Homo sapiens: one gene and its partners. The protein of the gene in region 3 interacts with the protein of the main gene of each other region in a biochemical or structural test. Each region holds a gene or a part of one and is shown on either strand. Other genes may lie near its edges. The genes, in order: FAM76B, UBE2E2, SRPK1, CDC42EP4, SEC23B, METTL14 and SETD3.

What was found.
Region 1: of the proteins of SRPK1 (region 3) and FAM76B, one has a biochemical effect on the other in vitro, tested with the Homo sapiens proteins (one large-scale study listed by BioGRID and IntAct).
Region 2: of the proteins of SRPK1 (region 3) and UBE2E2, one has a biochemical effect on the other in vitro, tested with the Homo sapiens proteins (one large-scale study listed by BioGRID and IntAct).
Region 4: of the proteins of SRPK1 (region 3) and CDC42EP4, one has a biochemical effect on the other in vitro, tested with the Homo sapiens proteins (one large-scale study listed by IntAct).
Region 5: of the proteins of SRPK1 (region 3) and SEC23B, one has a biochemical effect on the other in vitro, tested with the Homo sapiens proteins (one large-scale study listed by BioGRID and IntAct).
Region 6: of the proteins of SRPK1 (region 3) and METTL14, one has a biochemical effect on the other in vitro, tested with the Homo sapiens proteins (one large-scale study listed by IntAct).
Region 7: of the proteins of SRPK1 (region 3) and SETD3, one has a biochemical effect on the other in vitro, tested with the Homo sapiens proteins (one large-scale study listed by BioGRID and IntAct).

What each region holds. Positions count from the first base shown.
Region 1 is NC_000011.10:95,768,453-95,770,617, forward strand, and holds the end of FAM76B (protein FAM76B), read right to left. Parts: 3' UTR 501-2,165; downstream 1-500. UniProt on the Homo sapiens protein: Negatively regulates the NF-kappa-B-mediated inflammatory pathway by preventing the translocation of HNRNPA2B1 from the nucleus to the cytoplasm.
Region 2 is NC_000003.12:23,496,827-23,500,326, reverse strand, and holds part of UBE2E2 (ubiquitin-conjugating enzyme E2 E2), read right to left. Parts: intron 720-3,500; coding exon 587-719; intron 1-586.
Region 3 is NC_000006.12:35,837,599-35,841,098, forward strand, and holds part of SRPK1 (SRSF protein kinase 1), read right to left. Parts: intron 832-3,500; coding exon 739-831; intron 1-738. UniProt on the Homo sapiens protein: Serine/arginine-rich protein-specific kinase which specifically phosphorylates its substrates at serine residues located in regions rich in arginine/serine dipeptides, known as RS domains and is involved in the phosphorylation of SR splicing factors and the regulation of splicing.
Region 4 is NC_000017.11:73,285,563-73,288,001, forward strand, and holds part of CDC42EP4 (cdc42 effector protein 4), read right to left. Parts: intron 1,051-2,439; 5' UTR 939-1,050; coding exon 1-938. UniProt on the Homo sapiens protein: Probably involved in the organization of the actin cytoskeleton. May act downstream of CDC42 to induce actin filament assembly leading to cell shape changes. Induces pseudopodia formation, when overexpressed in fibroblasts.
Region 5 is NC_000020.11:18,552,940-18,556,439, reverse strand, and holds part of SEC23B (protein transport protein Sec23B), read right to left. Parts: intron 2,206-3,500; coding exon 2,050-2,205; intron 1,333-2,049; coding exon 1,267-1,332; intron 1-1,266. UniProt on the Homo sapiens protein: Component of the coat protein complex II (COPII) which promotes the formation of transport vesicles from the endoplasmic reticulum (ER).
Region 6 is NC_000004.12:118,702,392-118,705,891, reverse strand, and holds part of METTL14 (N(6)-adenosine-methyltransferase non-catalytic subunit METTL14), read right to left. Parts: intron 3,007-3,500; coding exon of another isoform or gene 2,957-3,006; intron 1,958-2,956; coding exon 1,841-1,957; intron 282-1,840; coding exon 71-281; intron 1-70. UniProt on the Homo sapiens protein: The METTL3-METTL14 heterodimer forms a N6-methyltransferase complex that methylates adenosine residues at the N(6) position of some mRNAs and regulates the circadian clock, differentiation of embryonic stem cells and cortical neurogenesis.
Region 7 is NC_000014.9:99,460,360-99,463,859, forward strand, and holds part of SETD3 (actin-histidine N-methyltransferase), read right to left. Parts: intron 3,220-3,500; coding exon 3,127-3,219; intron 982-3,126; coding exon 833-981; intron 1-832. UniProt on the Homo sapiens protein: Protein-histidine N-methyltransferase that specifically mediates 3-methylhistidine (tele-methylhistidine) methylation of actin at 'His-73'. Histidine methylation of actin is required for smooth muscle contraction of the laboring uterus during delivery.

The DNA of each region.
Region 1 (2,165 bases), on a different chromosome or scaffold from region 3:
GTAGGCTCAATAATGGTCCCCCAATATGTCCATGCCCGAACCCTTGGAACCAGTGAATACATTACCTTATATGACAATAGGGACTTTGCAGATGTGACTAGGTTAAGAACTCGAGATGGAAAAACTACGTTGTTTGTGCAGGTGGAGCCAATAATGTTCTCATAAGGTCCTTATGAGAGGGAACAGAGGGAGACACTCTGAGAAGGTATGATGACAGCAGCAGAGAGAGATTTGAGATGCTACAATTTGGGCTTTGAAGATAAAGGTCAATGAGCTCATAGCATGCAAGGAATGCAGCTCTAGAAGCTGGAAAAGGCAAGAAAACAGATTTTCCCCTACAGCCTCCAGAAAGAAGCAATCCTGCCAATACCTTGACTTTAGACCAGTAAACCTGATTTTGGACTTCTGGCCTCCAGAACCATAAAAGAATTAATTTTTGTTGTATTAAGACACTAAGTGTGTGGGAGTTTGTTACAGCAGCCATTGAAAACTAATACAAAGCCTTTGACAAGTTTTTTATTGTGAAATATTGGATCTAGAAAAAAGTACAAAATGTCAACAGTCAGATGTGTACAAGTACAGTATTTCAATAGTCTATACATGTGAACAGCTTAACAGGTTCACTGCAGAATGCATATTTAGACCAATATAATCTAAAAAGGACTGCAATATTCACAGGCTATTAATACATAAATAACTTGAGTCAAAATGACCCTTACTGGTAAATGCTAATTAATAGTGGAAAACAGGCTAAAAGCACAATACACCACACCATAGTATCTCCTTACAGGTCCACATTTAAAGAATATCAGTTTATTATGTCAAAACACTACAGAGATCCAGGACTGGGACTGAATTACTAATTTATACAATTGCAAAAAAATTTAAGTTATAAAATAAGGTCATGGAATAAAGAAGGGTATTTAATTAGGACTAAATACTGTGAAGCCCATGAAAGGGTTTTAGCCTTGGAATTTACAAAGCTAAATTATTAGACTGTTAATGTTAGCTAACACTAAAACTGAATTACCTTCCATTTTAATGTTAGCTAATATTAATATTCAACTTTTTAATTTTGATGTTAGCTAAGGGGAAGGACGAGGACAACTTTCTTTTGTAGTTTCTCCAACAAGGTGTAAGAACTATCAAAAAGTAAAACCATAATGACCACTGTGGACTGACAAATGGCTATGAAACAAGAATATAAAACATTACAAATTTCAAAGAAAGGTAATAACTATCTTATGAATTTAGCAAATCCTGCAAACGTTAAAATCCATGTTAAGGCATTATCTATCATGGTTGAGAGTACTAAATTTAAGAAAATTATTACATGAAGATCCCATAAAAATAAACTGGTTTAGTTTACAAGATTCTAACTGAATCTTTTTGTATCACTTGAAAATTACCCTATATTATGCTTTCAAAATGGACAAAGAATTATTTGGTATTCACTTTATAATGAACTATGAGAACAGTCTATTGAAACACGTCATGTTAAAAAAAAATTGTTTCAATCATGTGTTCTTAAGAAAGCCAATCTTTGATATGACATTCACAATCAATGCTTGTATAAAACAAAACCTTTAAAACTTATAAATTTAGTAACAGTTTTACATGAAGCAAATTTATCTTTGCCCATAAATTATTAAGAGAAGCAACTCACTCTATACAGTGTATCTAGCAATACTTTAAAATCAAACTAAAACTCTGAACTGATAATAACTAGGAGATAAATTCTATTTCAGGCTGAAAACCGCTGGATCAGAATATAGTCAATAACTTCATATAACCTATCCCACCCTACCTTAACCTTTTATAGACAATTTTAAAGACTTTAGGACAATTTACTTATAATGCCTGAATCTTATAGTAGATTCCAATTTATTCAAAGATTATCACAGATTGGATTAAAAAGATCATTTAATTTTTTTCAGATTTGCTTTAAATTTACAAATTACATTGTACATAAATATTAACTTAGATAACCACACATAGGGAAAGCAGATACATGGATCATTGCAGAAACATTAAAATTTTTAAAAAATTTTATAAAATATAAAGCAAAACATGTAACTCACACAATACTAATATGAAGCCACATGACATAAAAAATAAAATTACTCTTTAAGAAGCAACTTAAAATTAAATCTTTGGGGAACTAT
Region 2 (3,500 bases), on a different chromosome or scaffold from region 3:
ATTGATTAGTTTCATTAATGAACTATTATAAATACTTTACGAAATTTTTTAACACAACTTTTAAGTCTCTGTGGGTCATACTTTCCATACTAGTCCATGTGTGCTACATGTGAGCAGCTGAACTCTAGAGGCACCAAAACTCAAACCTCCATAGCTGGTGCTATAAACCTTGCCTAGGCAAGGCTTCCTCTGCCTTTAGCCTGATTCTTGCGCTTAGCTTGCTTGGGCTCTGGCTCCAGGCTACGTCTGATTTTCTGGGCTCTGGTACTCACCCTGGCCCAACCTTATGCCCCCATTTTCACCCATAAAACATGGTGTTTTAATGTTACATTAAAACATATAACAAAGAAAGGAGATAATGAGGAGAAAAAGGAGGAGAAAAAAAACAATGAAATCAGTAAAAAGCTGGGGTGGAGGAATAACCTACAATTTTTTACATTGTTTCATTTTATACACTATCAATCCTGGGAAGCTGTCTGTGACAACAGAATAGACATGCATCCCTAGAATGCATATTTAAGAATAAGTATATGTATCTAGAAATATAATCCATATTGCTAAAAATCAATGAAAACTTCATACTGACCTTAGGGGGTTTAAACGGATAGTCTGGTGAAAAGGTAATGTCAAGAAAGAACACCCCTCCTTCATAGACAGATCCTGGGGGTCCCAATATAGTTGACCTCCATTCATAAATGTTGTCTCCTTTGGGTCCAGCACTGAAATAAGACATACAAATGAAATGTGCTTAGAAATTACATAAAGGCTGGAATTTAACAAAATCTATTTATGATAACCAATTGAGCAATTCCATAAAAACACAAAAAGTTAATCAGTTAACTCTCATGTTAAGATTCATATTGCCAATATTGTCATTATCCTAGAAGTGAAATATGTTGGTATCACTTCATAAAAGAACACCAAGATCCTCTTTTGCCATTCACAACCCTACGCCTATGGAACAAGAGTCCAAGGACTACAGGCCAGAGGTAGAAACACAAATGTTTAATGAAAGCATGAAATTATTTGTGATGTCAGAGACAAAATTTCAAAGTTAGAAGGACCTCTGGGGAATGACTAGTCTGATCCCTTTGCTAACAACTGAGAACACAAAGGAGGTTCAATGTTCATCATCCAAAGTCTCTGCTCAAATATCATATCCCATCTGAATCTTCCTTTCTTTCTCCCCACCCAAAGGACTTCCTGACCCATACATCATGACCAATGAGGTCTGTAGAGGATAAGATGTATCATTTTGTTTTATAACTGTGTTTTGCAACTAATGCTTCTTTCTACCCTCCCTAGAAGGTGCTTGAGGAACAGGTTGTACCTTGTCCTTAGTGCCTCTTAAGTCAGTATGTTGGATGATGATGAATTAATAACAAAGCAAGTGAAGAAGCCACATGGCTACTAGCAGTACACATGTCTCTGAGTTTCAGAGAATTTTGCTGAAAACAATATGGCCCACATGAGTCGAGTGAATTGTATTAGTTCTCTCAGGTGAAAAGAAGGGCAAAATGAGATTAGGATTTAGCTAATCCTAAGAATGGGCTCAAGCCATTCTTGGGTCTCAGCCTCTCAAGTAGCTGGGTTTACAGGCATGCATCACTGGACCACACCTGGCCCCTAGAAAATGTATTTTTAAATGAGTTGCAATAGGTCTTGTAGGGAAGCTATGAATAAAGTCATAAAAGATGTGTAAGATCTTTATGGAGAAAATTATATAAAACTTATTGAAAAGTACTCATAAGAGTTAAATAAATGGAGGGAGATACCAAGTTTATGGGTAGGGAGACCTGATATCAAATGTCAGTTTCTCCAAATTGATTCATCATAATTCCAATTAAAAAGTCCAACTGCTTTTTAAAACCAAAACTCGACAAGTTGATTTTAAAATTTTTTCGGAAGCTCAAAGAAATTCCTCAAACTTTTCCACACATATATGAAAACCTGATTTATGTCAACTGATGGGACTAGGAAAAGTTTTTATATTTGAAAAACAGAGAAACTGGATTTTTACCCTCAGTAAATAAACAAATGCTGTTGCAGATGGATTAAATATTTAAATGCAAAAGTCAAAATATTAGAGTTTGACTGAAGAGAGTGACAAGGCAAGCTGCAAACAGAAAAGATATTTGGATCATATAAAAGTGACCAAATACTAGTGTTGAGAATACACAAGTTCCTAAGAATCAACTAAAAAAAGACTCTATTAAAAAAGACATAGACATTTCCAAAAAAAGGGAAACATAAATGGCCAATAATCATATGAAAAATGCTCAATATCATCAAAATCGGGGAAATGAAACTGAAAATCAAAATTCAGTAATATTATTTTACAAAATGCAAATGCAAAAATCAATGCCTGACAAAACCACATGTTGATGAGGATGTGGAAAAACTAGAACTCCTATGTACTGCTGATGAGTATGAGTAATTCCTTCGGATGAGAATATAGGCTCATCTAGTTAAGTTGAATATACAGTTGACCCCTGAACAACAGGGTCTGCATTGCGTGGGTCAACTTAGATGAACTAAATTTCAAGAAAATACATTAGAAAAATTTGAGATTTGTGACAATTTGAAAAAACTCGCTGACAACGCACTAGCCTAGAAATATTGAAAAATTAAGAAAAAGGAACGTCATGAGTGCACAAAATATACACAGATATTAGTTTTTCTTATTTACTACCAGAAAATATATACCGATCTCTTACAAAGTTAAAATTATACCCACAAACCATACATGATGCCATGAGCATTTTAAAAGAAATGTAAGCAAACACAAACATAGAGTATTAAATCATAACTGCATAAAAGTAACTATAATACATACTGTACTACTGTAATAATTTTGTAGCCACCTCCTGTTGCTATTGCAATGAACTCAGCTATTGCCAATAGCTGCTTAAAATGCCTAAAATGCCACGTGACAAAAATCATCTCTGCATGAGCAGTTCATCTCTCCAGCAAATTGCGTATTGCCATAAAAAGTGCTCTCTCTCAGTTCTCGCATATTTTTCATTGTGTTTGTGCAATACCGTAAACCTTAAATAACACCATGGGATCCATACGAAGGGCCACTAGTGATTCTGGAAGTAGTCCCAAGAAGCAGAGAAAAGTCATGCCATTACAAGAAAAAGTTGAATTACTTGATATACACTGTAGATTGAGGTCTGTAGTTGTGGTTAGCTGCCATTTCACCTTGTAAACAGATGATGTAAACTCAGGGTAACAATAAACACGGTACAATACTGTAAATGCATTTTCTCTTCCTTATGACTTTCTTAATATTTTCTTTTTTCTAGCTTACTTTATTGTAAGAATACAGCATATATACATATAACATGCAAAATATGTATTAATTGAAATGTTTATGTTATGAGTAAGGCTTCTTGTCAAAAGTAGGGTATTATTAGTAGTTAAATTTGGAGAAAGTCAAACATTATACATGAATTTTTGATGGCACAGGGGGCTGGTACCTCTAAACCCTGAGTTGT
Region 3 (3,500 bases):
CCATGCTGGAGTGCAGTGGCAATCATGGCTCACTGCAGCCTTGACCTCCCAGGCTCAAGTGATCCTCCCACCCCAGCTTTCGGAGTAGCTGCGACCACAGGTGTGTACCACCATGCCCAGTTAATTAAAAATTTTTTTTTGTAGAGACAGGGTTTTCCTGTGCTGCCCAGGCTGGTCTTGAACTCCTAGACTCAAGTGATCCTCCTGCCTTGGACTCCCAAAGTGTTGGGATTACAGGCGTGAGCCACCATGCCTGGCTCCAGTCTCTGCTTTTTTTTTTTTTTTGTGAGACAGAGTTTCACTCTTGTTGCCCAGGCTGGAGGGCAATGGTGCGATCTTGGCTCACTGCAACCTCCGCCTCCCAGATTCAAGTGATTCTCCTGTCTCAGCCTCCTGAGTAGCTGGGATTACAGGCGCCCGCCACTCTTCCCAGCTAATTTTTTGTATTTTTAGTAGAGACGGGGTTTCACCGGGTTGGCCAGGCTGTTCTCAAACTCCTGATATTGTGATTCGCCCACCTTGGTCTCCCAAAGTGCTGGGATCACAGGTATGAGCCACCGCGCCCGGCTCAGTCTCTGCTCTTGACCACTTTTTTTACCTCTTTTTTATCTCTTTGCTAAGTCACAGGTTAGCATTCAAGGCAGGCCCATCATTCTGTAGGACATTGGGAATATGTGCTTACCTCTTCATTTTTAAACACTTCTGCCTCCTTAATGTCTGGGAACACATTTACTTTACCTTTTTTGGTGAAAAATTCCTTGGAATATTTTCCTGCCACAATGAGCTTGCGAGGCACCTTCCCCAGAAGTTCTATGATCAATGCAATGTGATCTGTATATTTCAAACATTTCAAGAGGGGGGAAAAAAAAGATCCGTAACAAGAGTAACAAATGCAGCTCTAGAAAACAGCAGAAGGAGCAGCATGCACATCTCTTTGTAAAGCCTATCAGGCTTACTTTCTATCCTAAATGGGAAGAGGAAGACTCTATCCATCTAATGGAGAATTCACAAAGTCAAATTTTTGTGGATTCAGTGATAACTAAAAACAATCTTGGTGTGAATGCTCTGCTTCCTGAAGTATCCCTGGGTCCTACATAACAATACTACCTCTGTGACTGAAGAAGTCTTGTGAATATTTCCCACTGAGGGAAAAGCGTCTTGGAATTCTGCCTATCAGCTCTATAATGTGCACAATGTGGTCTAAAATAGAAGGGTAAGAAGAACAGATCAAGGACAAGCTGTAAAAGAGGTTTTTCTATGAATAGCTTTTTCAAGGACTAGCTGTTTAAAAGTAACTACAAATAAAACCAAGGATACTGAAGGAAGACTGACTGGGAAGGCCAAGAATTATTTCAGGTGGTTGGTCACCCGATAGTGTCTGGCAAGTCCCATTCTGGATTTTGGAGGCTTATCTTCATCTTTAGTTCTATTTTGTCTATATATCTAGGTTCAGGTAGGTTCTTTAGGTAAGATAAAAAACTGTCCAAATATGTGTTAGGCATTCTAGAACTATTATTTGTGATCATTCTGTCTCAGCCTCCCCAGTGGCTGGGATTTCAGGCATGTGCCACCACACCTGGCTGACTTAAAACATTTTTTGTAGAGATGAGGTCTTGGCATACTGCCAAGCTGGTCTCAAACTCCTGGGCTCAAGCAATCCTCCTGCCTTGGCCTCCCGAAGTGTTGGGATTACAGGCCTGAGCCACCACCTGGCTGATACCCCATTTTAAAGATGAGAAAATAGAACTTCAAAAAGCATGAATGGCCTAACTTGAAACTTCAGGGCTAATATGAGCTAAAACTCAGATGAAAACCAATGATCTTATGTCTTGTCTAAAGCTTTTAATTTCTTCCTAAAATCACTTTTTAAAAGTAAAGATTAGCACAAACATTTTAAAGTATAGCTGCTTGATGATCTGTAAACATCACAGTATGAATATGGACCATGAGCACAACCAGGGAGGCATGCAGCCTCTTAACCAGGAGGTGAGTCTGGGACCAACCAGTACACACACCTCAGGTAGATCTACTGCCCCCCCCCTTTTTTTTTTCTCTCTGCAGGTGACAGAAGTTAAGAATATAAAACTTTTTTTTTTTTTTGAGATGGAGTCTTGCTCTGTCGCCAGGCTGGAGTGCAATGGCATGATCTCGGCTCACTGCAACCTCCACTTCCTGGGTTCCAGTGATTCTTGTGTCTCAGCCTCCTGAGTAGCTGGGATTACAGGTGCATACCACCAGGTCCAGCTAATTTTTGTATCTGTAGTAGAGACAGGGTTTCACATGTTGGCCAGGCTGGTCTCGAACTCCTGACTTCAAGTGATCTGCCGCCTTGGCCTCCCAAAATGCTGGGATTACAGGTGTGAGCCACTGTGCCTGGCCTGTATTTTTTGTAGAGATGGGGTTTTGCCATGTTGCCCAGGCTGGTCTCAAACTCCTGGGCTCAAGCGATCCACCCACCTCAGCCTCCTGAAGTGCTGGGATTACAGGCGTGAACCACCACACCCGGGCATAATACTCCTGGCCAGAAAAAAAGCTTTAGAAAATACTTTTATCGTGTAGTTACAGAATCATTAAGGTTTAAACTTCCAGTTATGTATCTTATAGGGGAAATAACATGCTAGAGACGTCCATATTATCTGGGAATTTGTGAAGGTTTCAGGTTTTATCTTTCTCATGTAAAGGAGTTAGTGGTGTCATTTAAAGGGGACTTCACATTTATGACTTCCCTACAACCTTTGAGCAGTTTTGACTGAATTTATGGTTTGGTAACAAGTACCTGCATGCCAAGAATTTTCTGCTGGTTTTTGGCAGGACCTGCAAATGTGTTTTTACCATTAACAATAACAAAAATAAGAATACTAAGGAAAAACTTAGACTATAATTTCTAAGAGAGCTTCTTAAAGTTCTTAGAAACTTAAGTAAACTTCCAAGTAAAATATTGGTCCTTTAAATATTTTTCCTATACCAAGGAATTCCCTTGAAATTGTTACTTTACACTTAATTCTTGCAACCTATTTTGGCTTATGATAGGATTGATATACTTGACAGATAAAATTATCAGGTATTATCCCATGAGTTAGGGCTGTGGAAAGCCAGAGTAGAGGACATGGTACTCAGGCTTCTGTCCTACCACGACTCGTAACAAACTATGCACACACTAGTCAGGGGTAAGGGTTTGCTTGTTCCTGCTCTTATAGGTCAAACTGCAGCAGAACAGCATCGGTGGGGCTGATGTTTGACCTAAGGACTATTAGTACTAACTGGTATAGGATGGAATAAATTAGAATTTAAACATCTAGGGAAGATGGTTTTTCCTTGTCCCCTTATTTGGGACTCTGCATATGTATTAAAATTTTCAGGTTTGGTAGCATAAGGTAACACCCGATATAATTCTAGCCACTATATGTGTTCTGTACCACACACTACCATTTATGGAGAATCTAGGGAAGTAAAGGGGAAAAAAATTAATTACCCTCCCAAACAAACATAGTAGGTAGTCT
Region 4 (2,439 bases), on a different chromosome or scaffold from region 3:
CAGCTGGAGAGGGAGCTGCTGTCCCGTGTGGTGTGGCTGCCCATGCTGCGGGCTGAGCCGGGGCTGGGGGCCGCTGCTGCCCACCCCTCATCCTCCAGAGCATGGGAGGGGAGGGAGGGCAAGTCTGGGCCAGCCTTGCCTTCCTGCCTTGCCAGGGGAGGGGCCGCCACGGCGTACGGGGGAGCCTGGGTGATGGTGCCAGCGGCGCCCTCATCGCCATGGTAACCACCCTCCCCCTCCTCGGGGTCCCACTCCTCCTTGTCCATGATGCTGAGGACGTCACCCAGCATGGAGGGCCCCAGGTCGATGTGGAAGGACATGATGGACTCCGCATGCTTCAGCCCGTACGTGGCCTTGGGCACGACAGGCAGATCTGTCAGATCCCCAAAGGCCTGCTCATCGAGGAGGGGGTCAGGGGAATGTGGACCCGCGGCCCCATTCCGACGGGGCACTGCCTCCTCCGTGCCCGCCTCCTCATCGCCGCCCTCCCCGTCATTGGCCTTCTTCACGGGGCTGGATGACAGGCTCTTGGGCAGCTTACTGGTGCCCTTCTCCGCGGCCTCCTTCTCATTGAGCTGGGGCAGGGACATGGCATTCTTGACAAACAGGGCCGAGTCCCGCAGGGAGCCCAGCATGTCACGCTGCTCCCGCTCCCCCCTGGTCACCGACTGTGACCGCTTGCTGCCCCGGAACTTCCTGGACAGGAGACTGCGTTTGGAAGATGAAGAAGAGGGCTGTTCGTCCAAGGACTCGCCGTCGGGCTCGCCAGCCTTGCTATTGAGGAAGGAGGTGTCCCCAAAGGCGTCTCCGGCCCGGCCAACGTGCATGGTGTGGCGGAAGTCGCCCAGCGGGGCGCTGATCATCTCGGCCGTGAGGTCCGCTCGGGAACGGCGCTTGGAGTGCACCGAGCTGGACACCAGTTGCTTGAGGATTGGCATCTTGCTGGATGGGCGGGGAGGTGGGCCCTCCCGAGGTAGCCGGCAGGTCTGGGGTCAGATCTGAAGTCCAAGTCCAGTGGGCAGAGGGGGACGCAATGAGGAGATCATAAGGCTGCAAGCAGAGAATGAGAGGCAAAGGATTAACGCGGGCTGGCCACACGGCACAAAAGCCTCTTTGCCAGGGGACTGTCATTTAAACCCCAGCGCTCCTACCAAAGTTAAATGCTGTGAAATAAGCCAGCAATCCATGGTATAACCCTGCCTGTTTCTTCATCCGCAGGCATTCAGAGTAGAGGAGTGATTTTGCAAATCTGGTTAGAGTTCCAGTAGCCTCGGACACACTTTCCCTGAAACTTGAGAGAGACAGAACCTTTCTTGCAGAAGACAATGCCTCCCCTGCCCCTGCAAGCCAGGATGCTGCCAGAGTAAACATGACCACATTTAAGGACGCGAAGGTAAATCCAGCAATTCCAGGCAGCAAGCCAGGGAAGAGATGGAGTCTATGAGTTGGCTCCTATGAACAGTCAGCCTGGAGATGTGCTGTAAGTTCTTCCTGCTGTCTAACCTCGATCCCTGTGGAGTTAGTGGACACCCCACCCTGAGTCCTGGTCCTCAGAGAGAGAAGGGAAAGGACAGGACGGGCTCAGGGAGACAGAGGCTGACCAGCTCCTCCCCCTGCGTGGGCGGCACAGTCCTCTTTCTGAATCAGAACTGGGGTGGGGCTGCTGGGACCCACAGAACCAGCTCCCCAGCCTTTCAGCCTTCGCTTGGTATCCCATAAATGAGGATCCCGCCTGTGACGTCTCCACTGTGGAGCCCCAGGCTCTTTGCTGAGGGTCCACCTTCTGGTGTCTCGGGGAGATCAAGATTGGGCAACTTCCAGTTTCTTTCATCATTAGGGGAGTGGGAGGCAGGGACTGGACCCTAAATGACTTCGTCCCCCCAGGATCTGCAGACTGATTCCTAGGTGATTCACCAGAAATCCAAAAAACAGCAGAGGTAGAGCCCAGGAGCCTGGAGGCACCACTCTCACAGCTCCTGACAAGGGCCAAGTTGAAGTTCAGCATTGGGGCCAAACCAGCCCCTCTCTTCCCTAGAGGGGCTTGCCCCAAATACTAAGCCCAGCAGAGCTGGGCAGGTTGGGGAGAGATGGGTGCAGGGATTTAACAAAGTATGGTGGGTGAGAGGTGATGCTTGGACACCAGGTACCTGCCTGCCTCCCAGTCCAGCCAGCAGCACAGTTCTGAGAGGCACCCCCAGTCCAGACCCACTCTTCCCACTGCAAAACTCAGATGCTGGGTGCTTCCTCCGCATGCCTGCCGCTGCGTCACACAAGCCCACCACACCCCACCTGGCCCCTGACATCAGCCTGACAGGTCTCCCTGTTGGTCTCCCTCCTGTCCATCCTTCACCTCTTGGCTAAAACAAAACCCATCCACATGACGCCCTACCCAGTGCAGACCCCTTGATCCAATGACTAGTCCCCACCTCGCTCCTCAGT
Region 5 (3,500 bases), on a different chromosome or scaffold from region 3:
AAACATACCAAAGTCAATTGTATTTCTATATACAGTCATCCCTCAGTATCTGTGGGGGAATGGTTTTAGGACCTCCTGTGGATCCCCAAATCCACAAATGCTCAAGTCCCTAATACAAAATGGTGTAGCATTTGCATATAACCTATGCATACCCTCCCATACACTTTAAATCAGGGGTCCCCAACTGCAGGCCACGGATAGTACCAGTCCTTGGCCTGTTAGGAACCAGGCCACACACCAGGTGAGTGGCAGGTAAGTAAGTGAAGCTTCATTTGTATTTACAGCTGCTCCCCCATCACGTGCATTACCACCTGAGCTCCACCTCCCATCAGATCAGTAGCAGTATTAGATTCTAATAGGAGTGCAAACCCTATTGTGAACAACGCATGTGAGGGATCTAGGTTGCATGCTCCTCATGAGAATCTAATGCCTGATGATCTGTCACCGTCTCCCGTCACCCCCAGCTGGGACCATCTAGTTGCAGGAAAACAAGCTCAGGGCTCCCACTGATTCTACATTATGGTGAGTTGTACAATTATTTCATTATATATTACAATGTAACAATAATAGAAATAAAGTGCATAAGTGTGGTGATGGAAATGCTGCACATCTTGACCTTAAAAATCTCAATATCCCGGTTGTGATACTGTATTATAGTTTTTGCAAGATGTTAACACTAAGGGAAAATGGGTAAAAGATACAGGTGATCTCTCTGTATTATTTCTTACAACTATATGTAAATTTACAATATCTCAAAAAAATTTAATTTAAAAATGTTTTAAGAAAACAGAATGAAAGGAAAGACTCATCTGAGAGAGACATAAATGCTGGGAGCAGTTAGATAAAGTAGTAATCAGGCGGGGTTGGGGGAAGAAAAGGGAAGGAATTAGGCTGGAAAGTGAGGAGGCGGCAAAACCGATGGTGACAAGTTGCCCTGTATTCTTGGTGGGGAGAGGACTAGGGGCCATGAGGCTGTGTGACGGAGGACACCACCATGGAGGCCACAGTACAGTGCTCTGTCCCCTGGCCTGAACCTGGTATGTTCTGCTGTATATTGTGGAAGGGGACACACCCAGGGAGCCCCCTCAACCTCCGGCCCAGTAATGTTATTCAACTTGTTTCCCTCCCCGCCACTCCCCAGCAAAATACCCAACTTACGCAGTTATTCTGTCTCCAGGCCAAAAGAGATCCAATTTGTAGAATTTTAAAACAAGTTTAAAAAAAAACTAGCTTAGCATCCTCCCCAAATACCTGAAGATTTCTTACCTGTCCCCAAGCATACAGGTTATTGTGTGTCTGAGATGGGTTCACTTTGGACAAAAGGAATCGAGCCTTTAACAACAACAACAACAAAAAGATTTAAAGATTAAAAAGTGACATTAATATTAATGTAACAGAAAAAAGATAAGTTTTTACAACATTTGTTTGGTTAAATTAGAATTGTTTTACTGCACAGTAATCTAATTAGAATTGTTTTACTGCACAGTAATCTATTTCTTTAGCTTAAGCCCACTGGCTCTCCATTTAAGGATCCTAAAACATAAAATATGTATTTTATCTTGGCAATCCCTTTACATAAGCACATTTTGACCACTCATTTTTTTTTTTTTTTTGAGACGGAGTCTCACTCTGTAGCCCCAGCTGGAGTGCAGTGGCACGATCTCAGCTCACTGCAAGCTCTGCCTCCCGGGTTCACGCCATTCTTCTGCCTCAGCCTCCCGAATAGCTGGGACTACAGGTGCCCGCCACCACGCCCAGCTAATTTTTTGTATTTTTAGTAGAGACGGGGTTTCACCATGTTAGCCAGGATGGTCTCGATCTCCTGACCTCATGATCCGCCCGCCTCGGCCTCCCAAAGTGCTGGGATTACAGGTGTGAGCCACCGCGCTTGGCCTGACCACTCATTTAAAAAGAAGTCATATTTGGAAGATTACCTGTGTGTCAATTTATGTCATCACATAAAATATTAACCATCCTGTTTAGATGTATAGCAATAACAATCTATCATAAAACGAACAAACCACTGGAGTTAGAACTCAGCTCACTCACCTGACTGCCTCCATGCTCCGTGTTGATGTAACGTGGCATCGGGAAGCGTGCTTGCAGAATTTCTTGAGCATCATCCAGTGGTGCCTGCAGAAGGTGCTTGAAGTTTTCATACTCGGGCATGTCCTGGTAGCCAGCTTTACGCCACTGGGCTATGGTCTACACAGAAACAAACCAACCAAAACTATTGTGGAAACTGTAATAACAGCCTTCACTGACACTGACATTCTACCATCGCCACCCAGAGCTTGTTTCTAGTGAAGAAGTCTAATATCAAAAATGACAAGCTTCAGAGGGAGAGCAAAGCAGAGCTACCGGCAGGAGGAGAAGCAGGAGGAAAATGCCCCCGCCTGCGCATTCCCCCAGGAATGTCAGGCGTCACTCATGCCTCCTCTCTTCTATATCAACTAGTTAACAAAGCCCATGGATTACTCATCCCAAGGAGCGGTGGACTCCCTCCTTTTCCACTTCCACTGTTATCACTCAGTCTAGCCTCTCATCTCCGCACATCTGGTAAGGAAAGGGATTTGTTGGCTGCCCACACAGACTCCACTCCCCCATCTCCTTTCCTAACGGCACACATATTACACTCCTCTGGTGAGCAGTAGTCATACAGACTTGCGTGCAATTGTCTCACCCCCATCCCCTGCTCCCCCTGGGCCCTGAATTGGGGTACCCTTGGCAAAGGAGACAAAAGCTGTAAGAATCAAAGTATGAGTGTTGATGAGGCAGTGAGGAGAAGCCATATGCTAAACTGTGGAAAGCAGACGATCTGTCTCCCTGACTACGCTACACATTTTATCACCCTTCCTTCTTTTATACTCATCCACAACTGGTCTAGAAAATATCTTGTATACACAGGAAATCAAGAAACATTCATTAACTGATTCATATACCTTTATAAATAAAGTGAAGTGCTTTCGCATGTTATTTAGGAGAACAAGAAGACAATGGAGAGGAAAAATGGAGAAAGAGGCTACAGCAAGTGTGCAATGTGTCTTAACAGAGCCATTAATATGGCTCCAGGCAGAGGATTCTCATCAGATGCCTCCTTCTGTAGCCTGCTCACTCCTTCTCAAAGTAGCAGTTACCGTTTTCCAGGTCTAAATGCTGTGATTGACTGTTGGCCTATGGGAAATGCCCACGAGCTCACCAGGGTCCAGAAGTTCATAAGAACACTCGCGTTCAGCACGCTCAGGACTTTGGGAAGGTGAGAGCAATGTCACTGTCTTTATCCTTAGAACCCCTCACTTGCACAAGAAGGTGCTCAATAAACAAGTGAATGAACAGGATCAGGGGTTGCAAAAGAAATGTCGATAAGGAGATGAGCTTAAGGCAAAGAAAGCTTCATCCTTAGTACAGTCGGCCCTCGGTATCTGTGAGATTGGTTCCAAGACCACTCCTCCCAATACCAAATTCCATAGATACTCAAGTCCCTCATACAAAATGGCATA
Region 6 (3,500 bases), on a different chromosome or scaffold from region 3:
GCACCATGTCCTATTTCTTGACATGCATAACCCAAAGAATCATAAAAGTTGTTGTTAACTGAGGTCCTACCTGGTCGAATTGTACTATCTCTTCCAAATAGATGAAGGCGTCTTCTACCAAGACAAAAATGCTCAATTATATGAAAAATTTCTACAGGTTTTTCTATATTGCCAATTTCAGGTTCTTCTGTGATAATTAAGTCAATGTCAACATTAGCATGAATGAAGTCCCCGTCTGTGCTACGCTTCACAGTTCCTTTGATCCCCATGAGGCAGTGTTCCTAAATAACAAGAGCAGACCAATTAATCTGTTTTCATCAACAGTCATTCCAAAACCTTTCACATTTCTGATGTCCTCAATTCTAAAACAATCCTCATTTCTCGGAATCTTTGGGATACAGTTATTTCTCTTCTTTTTGAGACTGGGTCTCGCTCTGTCACCCAGGCTGGAGTACAGTAGCACGATCTCAGCTCACTGCAGCCTTGACCTCCTGGGCTCAAGCAATCCCCCGCCTCAGCCTCCCAAGTAGCTGGGACCACAGGAACACACCACCACACCTGGCTGATTTTTAAATTTTTTGTAAAGACAGGGTCTCGCCATGTTGCTCAGGCTGGTCTCAAATTCCTGGGCTCAAGTGGTCTACCTACCTCGGCCTCCCAAAGTGCTGGGATTACAGAAGTGAGCCACCATTTCTGGTGAGATACAGTTCTATGGGCAACAAAACAACAGGAAAACCTGGATCTCTGGATGAGGAAAGACTGCCATGTAAATAAGAAAAACAAACTCTTCTACGCACTCACAACACTCAGTATTTTCAGAATACTTCACTTCTGATCCCAGATGTGTGGGTTTTTCCCATACCAAGCAATTCTCCACTTCTCCATCAACACTATAATTCAATTCAATTCTGACACTATCTACCTAGTTAGTGCAGACCCCACAGGTCAAGGGCTGAGAACCACATGAATGCCCCACCTTCAGATACCAATCACAAGTCCAGATTGTCACCTGTGCTTCTGACCAACCAGCTATAAATCAGAGGTTCCCATGACCTCTTCCTCAGGTTAGATCATTTGCTAGAACAGCTCGAGGAATTCAGGAAAGCTCTTTACTTACTATGACCTATTTATTATAAAAGGATACAACTCAAAAACAGCCAGATGGAAGAGACACATAATGAAAAGTATGCGGCATGGGGCATGGGGCATGGAGCTGCTGTGCCCTCTCCAAGCAGACCACCGTCCCAGAAACTCCACAGGTTCACCAACCCAGAAGCTCTCCAACCCATCTTGGGATTTTACGGAGGCTTCATTACCTAGGCATGATTCCAGTACAAAAAAGACTTAATAAGAAAGACCCTCCCACCAGAGGCTCCCTAAAAAGTAAGAACAAAAACTGTTAAAGCCTGATACTAGCAGGGCAGAGTCACAACAAACAGAAGTTCTCAGGGGTTCTTGTAAAGGAAAAAGAAGGAAAGAAGAGAGAAATACGTCTCTAAGCTGGCCAACTCGAGTCTTGCGATCTTGCTATCTCTTCTTTCTGAGCCTAGAAAAATTCTGCGGGTGAGTGTGATCAAAAGCCTTTATCTAACTTAGAAATATGGCATTTAGGACATGGAGGAATATATACTCCCCTTTCTAGCATGGTGGGGTTGATCTAAGATAATGAATAAAACATTTTAAAACTAATTTGGATGTATTCCTGTAATGCTCAATGCTGTCTTTACAAGTCTAAGAAAAGGACCTTTTCACTGAAGTTAATTAAACAGTATACAGTTATTTGGAAAAGCTTGAGAGAAAATCACAAAAATTAAAAAAAACAAATCAGTAAAGGCAATACCTTTGTTCTCTGAAAGACAGCCTTTGGATCTAAAGTCTTAGTCTTCCCAGGATTGTTTTTATTGGTTTTAATCCAACAAATATCTTCACATCTTCTGTAACCCCATTTTCGTAAACACTAGAAACAAAAGAATTTTAAACACAAATCCTTAACTTAAAGAAATAAACAATACTTAACAATAACAACCAGCATTAAAAAAAACTTTCTAGAGGTTTCAGACACTATATTCCAAGGTTTCAAGGTAATTTTGTTTCAGTGTAGAATATAAAAAGAAATGCCAGTCTTTAAATACATAGCCATAATACGGAATGCATATATATCTTTTGGATATCAATGTCATATATATAGTTAAATATCAAAACATAGAAAGGATTACATCATCTCCCAATTCTACATTCTATTGTCATCAATGGACATGGGGTTTTAAATTGTAAGCACTCAGACCTTCTGTAATCACAAAACAATCCAAAACACAATTTGATTCCTGCCAACTCAATATTCTATTCTCTGACAAAGCTACATACTATTGAAAATTTTCTAAACGCTAACTTCAAATGAGAGTCTTATAAAATCTTATTTCTATTTTTAATACAACTGTAAAAATGTTCAAACTTAAAATTGTTACGTGTATCTCTTTGTTGGGTAAAATGGTACTTTCATCTCTATATAATCTAGAAAACAGAGATGTGAACCTTAATGTCCTAGAAGCTGTTATACATTAACATAAAACAAATACCAGCTAAATGACTGCTCACAGTGACAACTGAAAGTCTACCATATGCCAGTGCTGGTTAGCTGCTGGAAATAAAAACATGAATAAGACACAGTCCCTATCCCCATCAACTTTAAGAGTAAAGGAGGGAAAAATAAACAAATAAGTACAGTATTGCTGGTATGATGATCAAGTACATATCAAGATATAGTAGAGGCAGGTTGGGGGCTAGGGGAGGGACAGCATTAGGAGAAATACCTAATGTAGATTACGGGTTGATGGGTGCAGCAAACCACCATGGCACATGTATACCTATGTAACAAACCTGCACGTTCTGCACATGTATCCCAGAACTTAAAGTATAATAATAATAATAATAATAATAATAATAATAATAATAAAACCTTCCAACAAGCTTCCTTTCCACCACAGGAAATCCTGTTGGGAGTTCCCCCTGAACCAAAAAAAAAAAAAGATAGAGTATAAAACATACACTTTTCAGGAATGCTTATTGGGTAATGTAAGATAACACCTCAAAATGAAACTCAGAATTTTATTTTATTTTATTTTTTGAGATGGAGTCTCACCTAGGCTGGAGTTCAGTGTGGTAATCTTGGCTCACTGCAACCTCCGCCTCTCAGGTTCAAGTGATTCTCATGCCTCAGCTTCCCAAGTGGCTGGGACCACAAGCACGTGCCACCATGCTGTGCTAATTTTTGTATTTTTAGTAGAGATGGGGTTTCACCATGTTGGCCAGGCTGGTCTTGAACTCCTGGCCTCAAGTGATCTGCCCGCCTCTGTCTCTCAAAGTGCTGGGATGACAGACATGAGCCACTGCGCCCAGCAGAATTTTATTTTAAAATCTCCAAAATCAAGATCAATATCTGTTCCTGTTACTAAATATTTATTTTGCACCAGGTGTCATTAACATCACTATGACCTAAATTC
Region 7 (3,500 bases), on a different chromosome or scaffold from region 3:
CAACAGATGGTCACCCAAAATATCACCTACTGAATCCCAGAATTAGACAGACTCCCCCACCTAGTTACAGGCAGAGCTGGATCCCCACCGCCCTCCCCACATGTGGCCTGCCCCTGCAAAGCTTCCAGGGCAGAGAGCAGAGTGGAATGAATGCATACGGGCAACTAGCTCCCATCGAGAAAAAGGCCAAGTCCAGTTCCTTCTCCCAAACTTGGCCAACAGATGAAGGAGTGCCTCCTCTTAGAAGAGACATGAGTGAGGGGTGAGAAGAGGCCAGGCATGGCCAGTGACTGCTGCTCCCTTCATGTGGAAAGAAGAACCAAGAACCAAGAGGGGAGAAAAAGCCCTTCTTCCTTAGTAGGTGGCTGTTTCTCTCTCCTCTCCCTATTGCCACTGGTATTGCCATTTCAGTGAGCTCCTAGTACCTTCAGCCTCATAGTCATCCATTTCAGACACTAGTAGGCATACCCACACCGCCAGTCCTCCACCCACTCACCTCCAGTAAGTTACAAAATCCAAACCATGAGTCCACCTCCTTATCTTTAGGTAAATCTCAAAATCCTGTGAGGCATGTTCTATGGTCTCCTAACAGAGGCTCAGAAATGTGAACTGACTTGCCCCAGTCACTGATTAGCAACTTGGCTCCCCAGGAGGATAAGGTGGGAGGAGCTGCTTAGAACATGAGCCCAAGGCCCTTCCAGGCTGCCTATCTGCCCACAGGCTCAGAACTAGAACTCCCCCACCACACGTCTACCTCTTCACCCTGCGCCCTCTACAGCACACCACAGTTCAAACACATAGACCCCTTGAGACCAACATTTTATAAACTCACCTTGATATCTCTTGTTGCTCTCAAACCAAAGCCCTCTTCTTTGAAGTTAACCATTTCAAAACCCTCGACAGAAGCCCCATTTTCAGAGGCCCATTTCATTAGATCAGGAAAGTAATCTTCTCTTTTTCCATCAAAAGTAACGGACAGACCTATATTAATCCACGTTTTAGAAAACAAGAGCTACTTTTAGGACACATATCATTCACACGTCTCTCAGAAAATAAAAACAGGCCATAACTAACACTGGAAATAGTCTTAACACGCCAATCTTGAAATCAAAACTAATCACCAGATGGTCACAGTACATACCTTAACTGGTGACAGGGAAGAAGAATTAAAATCCTAAACTCCCTGTCAGTTACAGTGAAATATATACTGACACTAGGTAATATAAATATTGACTATTAGGTACTATTAGGTAATACGATGGCAAAGGGCAGAGAGCTTCTATTACCACTACTATGATTTACAGAGCAGTTTTCTCCTTAAAAGTCAAACATGCCACCTCTCATGTTCACATTTGCTTTAACAAAATTTCCATTAAAACAAAAATGAGTAGCTCGCGTATGTGCACAAGGAGACATGGGAAAGGATGAGCCCCACAGCCCTGATTCTAAGAACACAAAACTGTAGAGCTGTAAGCCAGAAGGCTGTAAGGCAATTTAAATGAGCTAGAGCTATGTGTATCAACATAAGTATAACACTAAATGTACCACAGTGGCTTTTAAAAAATCACGTAATATGACACCATTTATGTAAATTTTTCAAATATCAATTACAACCATATATTTTTATGGGGTTATTTATGAAGTAGAAAACATTCACAGTGAAGATGAACACCCTGCAAGGAGGGAGGGAATGGAAGGGGATGAAAATGTGAGGCTTTGGCTGTATCTGTGATGTTTTATTTCTTAAAAACAAATACAAAAACAAAACCAAGGGCTGAGGAAGGGAAAGGAAAGCTGATCAGTGGGTGAGAATAAAAGAAAGGACAATGAGAATACAACTTTGACATGTGCTCAGCTGGGGTAGCAGATTCTTGGACATCTGTTATATTAATTTCTGAACTTTTCAGCATGTCCTATGTAGTCAAAAAGATGAAAAGACATGCATAGAAAAAACTATTCTGTTTGGATGAATAAAAGGAGGGGAACAGGAACTTTACTATGAGGAAGCTGGGTGTGGCACATAGCTCAGGCGCCTGTGGCCATCTTACCACAGCATAATTAACAGTCAACCTGATATGTGAAGAGGGCATGCTGGATATGCGAAGATACCTGCTAAATGGCGAAAATGACCAGAATGAGGAATATTCAAAGACGGAACTTCCTATTCACTCCTTGAGAACTGGCAAATGCTTTACCCTCAGTGTCAGGTATAGTAAACAGTATCTACGCAGAAGAGAAACTAAGGCGCTACCCACTTGGTGACAAAGGATTAGCACAGACTCCTATTTAGTGCAAATAAACCCATTATGAAGGAACCTGTTTGAAAACACCCATTATGAACTCACCATTTTGGAGTCTGAGACCATCTAAACTGAAGACTACATGTTTAGAGATGTGTATGGAAGAGCAATAAAACCACTACTTAAAGAGAGCAAATAAAAAACAAACCCTCTCCTGAGGCCCTTCATGACAATAAGAAAGGGCCCCACATTCCAATGCATGCTCCTTAGGATGTTTTCTGCTTCTACCTTCCATGTGGTCCTGCATAATAATCTTTACTTTTTGTGCTTTACAGAACAAAAACAATAGGTATAGTGAATGAGCTTTTTCAAACTCACACTTAGCCCCACGCCAGCCTGGATGAGAATCATTACAATGGCGACTGCATACGTCCTGTAAAAACACAGCTTAAGGAATATGACCACACCTCTTATTTAACTGAGATGTGTGTGAGTTCATTATAAACCTTGCTAATGCATTAACCAATCAGCATTTATTTGTTATTGACGATATACACTATATGCACTGTCCTGAAACTCAAAAGGAAATAACGGTATAATACTTTATAAAATGTAAATAAATAAAATTGTATCATTTTAGCACCCAGATACAAACATTTTATTCTCCTAAAGCTCAACATTCTCACCCTTTCCGAAGCAGGTAATAGCATCTCAGAAAGGGGAGAAATCCCGCTAACTGCTCTCTCTCCCGGTCTGCAAGCCCCAGTACAAGACCTTTCAGAGTGACACCAATGATGCTGAGACCTTTACTACTCGTCAACCCTTTGACCTAATCAAGTTTCTACATGACATTATTAAAATACAGTTATCATTCTAGCAATTTTACCTTTTTGCTTTTTCCGTATTTTCTCAACCAGAGTCCGGATCTGCACATACTCTTCCCACTCTTTTCCTGGGCCAGGCGCCGGACTGCTGCATTCTGTAACATAAGAGGCATGGTACTGAAACACTTCTCTCTTTCAACTTAACCTACTAGTCTGCACAAGAAAGAGGATTTGGACTTTGTTGTTGCTGTTCTGGGGTTGGTTTATTTTTAAAAGACAGACATATGACAGCCATGATAATGAATGTGAGAAGTACAAGGCAGGTACACTTCTCAAAGCAGACAAACCCTGGGGCATCATAAAAACATCCCCCACTTAACGTACCCAAGAGAGAGCACTGAGCAAGCACCTAGCTCACATCCACCTTATTCTTAGT